Linked DNA regions of Homo sapiens: region 1 is linked to region 2. The links come from fine-mapping of genetic effects on gene expression. A gene starts in region 2. The other region holds a variant in brackets. All regions are shown on one strand. Distances are from middle to middle.

Region 1 (2,907 bases), 370 kb after region 2:
CCTTTTATTGTGGTTTCACATTACCTTTTTCTGACTTTTAGTACATTTGAGCATCCTTTCATATGTTGCCATTTGCTCTTCCAAGAACTGCCTATTTAGCCATTTTTCTCTTAGGTTCTAGGAGTTTTATTTCCCTTCTTTTGTTTAAGTAGTGTTACTAAAATATTCCAAACATATATAAAGTGCTTAGGACAATGTCTGGCATGGGGGAAGAATTTTATAAATGTGGGCTGTAAAAAAAGAGAGAAAGAATGAAAATCCCTATGAGCATGGTGAAGGAAGATCCCAGGGTAACAGCCATGCACAGGCCTAAGATTAGAACAGATGACATTTCAGGAGAGATGTCTCTTAGAAATTGAAATTGATAAACCCAATATATATGAACATATTTAGAGATTTTAACAATTAGGGAACCTTGGGAATAAATTTGTACTAAATAAAACTAAACAAACAAAACATGATGCTTATTAGCTCCAATGAAAGCAAAAAGTTATACAGGAAAAAGTAATGATAATATAAGACATAGCAAAGCTGTGATTAGCATTTAGATAATTATAATAATATAAGCACTGGATGTTAATCCAAGCAAAATTATATGAATGTTTGGGGGGATGGGAAAATCGGGAGTGGGGGATTGGGGAATGAAAAAGAGTTAAACTCTCTTCTTGCTTGGGAGGAAGGCAAGAGATAATACCTGAAGCTGAAACATCAAGAGGGCACCATAATGATGAAGGTGAATACCACAGAAATAGCTTAAAAAGTTGAAAGTGTCTCTAGGGGGCAGGAAATGGTGGGGCGGCCGGGGGCGGGTAGGGGGTAAAGCAGGGCTGTTTGTTCTTTAAGCCTTTTTGATACTTAATTCTATGTGCATGTAGATCTCTGATGAAAATTCAAGCTAGAATAATTTTGTAAAGTAAACCAAATCCAACCATCTAATTAGTCTGGAACTAATGTATATCAGCCTTTTATAAAGAAATCAACTGTAAAGACTACTCTCCTGGTGGCTTTCACAATAATGAGGTAGCTTTTATTTAATGCAGATGGGGAGAAATTTATTGCTTTCTTCCAACTGTTTTTCTTCTAGCTAAATGCTAGCTTCTTTTAAACCACAGGTCTGAGCTCTTTAAACACAAAATAATGATTCTTGATTGAAAGCAGTACAATGTTTTTTTGAACTTTGGGTAAAATCAAAAATTTGGTATCAGCACAGTTTGGGGGCACACATCACTCTTTTTATCTGTGAACACAGAAGTGTGTTAAACCCAGTGATTAATAGGTGTACATCAAATTACAGTTCTAGAAGGAGTGACTTTTTAAATAGCATTTCACCTTCCCTCTGAAAATTGTCTTGGTTGTTTTGCCTGACAGTTTTTAATACCTCCTTCTAACCTTGGCACTGTGCATGTAAACTGTCCCCACTATTCATGGGAGCTATGTGATAA[A/T]CACTGCTGCAATGACTTCCCTTTAATGGTTAGTGAACTAATCCCTAAATACAACTTATACCTATCTTTGAAATCCACCTGGATTATAAATGTAATGGAAATTTACTGAGCCTCCATCCTCACTCCAGTGTTAAAACGTTTAAAATGGATGGATGAGGACTTGGCTAAGTTTGGAGGGAAACCTGGCCACAGTTTTCACTTCCTTAATTCAGTCAAGTATTCTGTTCAAGAATCTTTTTGTAAATATTCTTTTCTTCTGAGCTGACTTATTTTCAAATCAGTAAACATCAATTTTTATTATTTTTAAAGTGCTTACTGCTACTACCACCACTACCACCACCTTTACTATATTTCCCTGAAGTGATCTGTAGCCACAATTACCCTTCTCTGATATATGAAAATAGTTCTTAATACCAGGAGTAAAATTCTTGCTTTCTACTTCTTGAAATAGTAGACACTGTCATTATTGCATTTTCTCACCAAGGAATTAATTAGCAAAGTAAAAGAAAAGAAAGATATGGGAAAAAAAAGATATTTTAAAATAAGTTGGCTTACTTTGCTTTCACAGGCAATCTAAAAGTGCTGATGGCAGTAGCTCAACTTAATACTATTCCTTATTTGTAAAAGTGCCTCTAAGTGGCAAGCCAAAATATGAGTAAGTTAGTTAGCGAGGCAGCTCCACTCATCTCTATAGCTTCAGTAACTGGTCACTCTTGGCAGAGAACCCTGAGCTATAAATAATTCAACCTACTTCAGCTAGGTTCGAGCAGCAGGAATTGTTAAAAATGATATATGATACAAAACTTTATCCAAGATTGACCTTATATCACAGGCAGAATTTCCAATGCAGACTGTGTGTGGCTTACGATAAGCATATTCATTTTGTGCAAATGGCCACTTGAAGACAGCTAATCCAGCTGGGTGGTCAAATTACTATAGTAACTCTATTTTCTTACCCATTCCTCTCCTTGGACATTACCTTTTCTTCCTGCTGAGCTATTTGTCTCTTGGGACAACCCATGCCTAGCTCTGCAGCTCATACCTGGCCTCAGGACTGTGATTCCAACTCTAGAATCCTTTCCAAGTCCCCAGAGGCCCACAATGGTTTAATAAAAAGGAACTTTCCTCATTTTACTGTGAATGCCTCAAAGTCAGAGACCACATCTCTTTTCTGTATCCTCGCTGTTTCATATGATGTCTGGCGCAAAATATGCTCAAACACATTTGTTAAATAAATAGGAGATATGTCGAGTTTTTCAGCTGGCCTATTTAAAAACCTTCAACTACATGCATGAAATAAAAATGTCAAGTTTCTTGTTTTTTGTAAACTACATTTGATAAATTCAAATTTGAATTTATCCAGGACATCCTGGATACTTCATTCCAACCAGAAATTGTAATAAAAGATGGATGGATGGATGGATGGATGGATGGATGAATAGATAAATATATAATTCTAATCAGA
Region 2 (2,907 bases):
AGGCAGGCTACTACAAACATTAATCCACTAGCTTTTTTTTTGTCGCTCAGGCTGGAGTGCAGTGGCACAATCTCTGCTCGCCACAACCTCCGCCTCCCGGGTTCAAACGATTCTCCTGCCTCAGCCTCCCGAGGAGCTGGGATCTCAGGTGCACGCCTCAAAGCCCAGCTAATTTTTTTATTTTTAATAGACATGGGGTTTCACCATGTTGGCCAGGCTGGTCTGGAACTCCTGGCCTCAAGTGATCTGCCTGCCTTGGCCTCCCAAAGTGCTGGGATTACAGGCATGAGCCACCGTTACCGGCCTCCACAGGCACTGAATAAAAATTATGTTTCCAAATAGGAGTTCATTGACCTTAGGGAAAATTTTTCATAAAAATAACTGTAGAATGAATTTTTTGCAAATTTATTTTTAAAAACGGTACCCCAAGCCAATGATTTTGTGGTTCCGTTTTCAATATCCTCGTTAAATTTCCCTACTGATAACAGACTCTCTCTGTGAAGATTTTTAAATTACAATGAAAATTAGAATACATAAAAATCCTTTAATATCCATAAGCATTTGCTTTGGTATGTTCATGATCAAATTAAAAATTAACTTTGAGACCTCACAGGTCGACAGCACAAGCTTCATTAACAAGAGTAACACACCATCCTAATGTCCACACAGCACAGAGGTAACTTCTCATTATTAAAAAGAACCATGGACGCATGGTTCTGAACCCTGCCTGCACTTGGCGGGAACCTGCGACACGAAAGCCTGGCCAGCCCTTGGAGCCATGCAGGGTGCGGTTAAGCCGCGAACACCATGTCCCACTTGCCTGCCTCGGGGCTTCTGCCTTCCAGACCGCAGCAGGAGGCAGAGGGGCAGGAAAGGCTGACCGGTGTCACCTTCCACCCACCCTCTGAGTGGGCCTAAGTGGGAAAGCAGCAGGGCTCACTGCAGCGCAGGCTGGTTGGCCAGCACATGCGCACGCTCCCCCGAACGGCAGGGAAGAAAAATTGAAACTCTCCTTTTAAGTTCCCTAAGTAGGAACTCGCGACTGCGCGTCAGCTTTTTCCCACGCTCCCGCCGAGCCGCGGGTTCCCTGCACCCGCCTCTGCCAGTCGAACTCCCTGGGAGCCCAGGCTCGCAGCCTCCCGCGCAGCCGCCGGGAATCCGTCCCGCAGCACCGCGGTCCAGCGCCCCCGGGCCCCGCCCCACCCCTCCCCGCCCCGCCCGCGCCCCAGGCCCCGCCCCGCCTCACCGTCTCACCATCCCCGCCTTCCCCGCCTTCCCCGCCTTCCCCGCCTTCCCCGCCTTCCCCGCCTTCCCCGCCTTCCCCGCCTTCCCCGCCTTCCCGGGATCGCCCGGCGCGTTCCAGCGCCCCCGCGCCCTCTCCACCTCCCGCTTTCCACGCGGCCCTCAGGCCCGCCTCCTCCGCCCTACCTTGGTCCGGATCTGCCCCGAGGTAGACACTTTGCGGATCAGTTTCTGGGGTCCCTCTTGCTCCGCTTCGCTGTCAGACGAATCCTCTCCCGGCCCCGCCGAGGCAGCGGCGGAGGTGACCGCGGCGCCGGCTCCGGCGGCCGCTCCTCCAGCGGCGCCCGGAGGGTGGTGCTGGCCTCCGGCCCCTGCCATCCTCTCCGACTCCTGCGGGGACACAGCACCGCCCGGCGGGGGCGGCGGCGTTGGTCAGCGGGTGGGCTCTGCCCGAGCGGAGCCCGGAACCCCGTGCCCGGCCGCCGCCGCCATCTTCCGTTTCCCTAGCTACCCCCGCGAGGTAAGGGTCGCCCGGGGCAGGCGCCCTCCAGGCAGGGGTCCACCCGGCTCCTCCGCTCGGTTCCCGCCGGAGCGGCGGCCACGGTGGGACGCAGAGGTAACGGACCCCCGCCCGCCTCGGACCCCTGCGCACCCAGCCTCGGATAGGACCAGCGCGGGTAGAGAGGATGGGGTGACAGGGTTTGGAGCAACATCTCTTCCACTCCCTTACGGTCTGGGTCCCTAGGATGGACAGGAGGGTGGGGGAGGCAGGAAACCTCTGCAGCCCACCCCGTAGTGGCGATGCCCGCACACCCCCTCTCACTTCTGGACAGCAGGGGCAACGCCGATCCCTGGGGAAGAATGGGAACCTGGAGCTTCCTCCCAGCACCCTTGGGTGCACCCGCCACCTCCTGAACCCCGAATCTCTCCAGAGACACTTGGGCCTCGCCGCGCGGTTCCAGCTGAATAAAAGTCCCCTCTGCCACCAAGACAGTCGGGGGCTGCCCCTCGTCGGTTTCCCCACCCCCAGCCCCACTCCGAGGACCGTACCTCTCCCGCCTCCGCCAGGGCCGTCGGGTCCCCTCAGCTCTCCTGACGGCGGCGTTCAGTTTCTGGCCCACCCCCACCCCCATCCGGCGCACACGGAAGAGAAGAGCATTTTCCGGGAGGTTCAGCTCCGCTCTGAGAACTTTTCGTTCAGAAAGAGCGATCCCCTTCGGCTAACAGGAAACTGGGAAGGGCGTGGAGAAAGCGCAGAAACAAGAGACTACACGCAGCCCAAGACGACAGAACGCACAAGAAGTGTCTAAGCTGAAGCGCTAACCGAGATTGCCTGGAAGAAAACAATACACTCGAGCCATGCGAACACCAGTACCCGAGACAAAAAGCCTTGGAAGTCCTGGCAGAGCCACTCCCTAGCCCGGACTAGAGCAGGAGGAAGTGGGATCAACAGGCTGTAGCCACCGCGCACAACTCCCCTGCAAGCTGGCTGCGCGGGCACTTGGGAACCGCGGACTGGCAGCGGGTTGTGCACGCTCAACGTCAAAGAAGCCTCACAGGTGTGAGGGGGCTGCGGTGAGGGGGCTGCGAGAGAAGACATTAAAACGACAGATCCCTCTTGTCATCCAAAGAGAACACCAAACTGGTGTTAGCTATATTTTTAAA

Direction of the effects. Positions count from the first base shown, and alleles are read on the strand shown. Sizes are in standard deviations (SD) of each study's normalised expression.
For the expression in gastroesophageal junction of the gene that starts at base 1,746 in region 2, T is the low allele of the variant in region 1 and A is the other (small effect, 0.33 SD a copy in GTEx).

Evidence for each region. PIP is the estimated chance that this variant, and not a neighbour inherited with it, causes the effect.
Region 1: its variant is the best candidate, but not a certain one, in a credible set for the expression of DGKH in gastroesophageal junction (GTEx, PIP 0.89).

The regions. Positions count from the first base shown.
Region 1 is chr13:41,677,751-41,680,657 of GRCh38, reverse strand. The region is part of intron 35 of VWA8 (von Willebrand factor A domain containing 8); the gene reads left to right. Among named protein-coding and RNA genes, the nearest start is that of MIR5006, 110 kb to the right of the region's middle. The variant A/T (reference allele first, on the strand shown) is at 1,443.
Region 2 is chr13:42,047,487-42,050,393 of GRCh38, reverse strand. It overlaps DGKH (diacylglycerol kinase eta), which reads right to left and starts at 1,746. Exons shown (of 30, transcript NM_178009.5): 1 at 1,429-1,746. The coding sequence starts at 1,620. RefSeq lists a silencer at 1,440-1,969 and an enhancer at 2,510-2,599.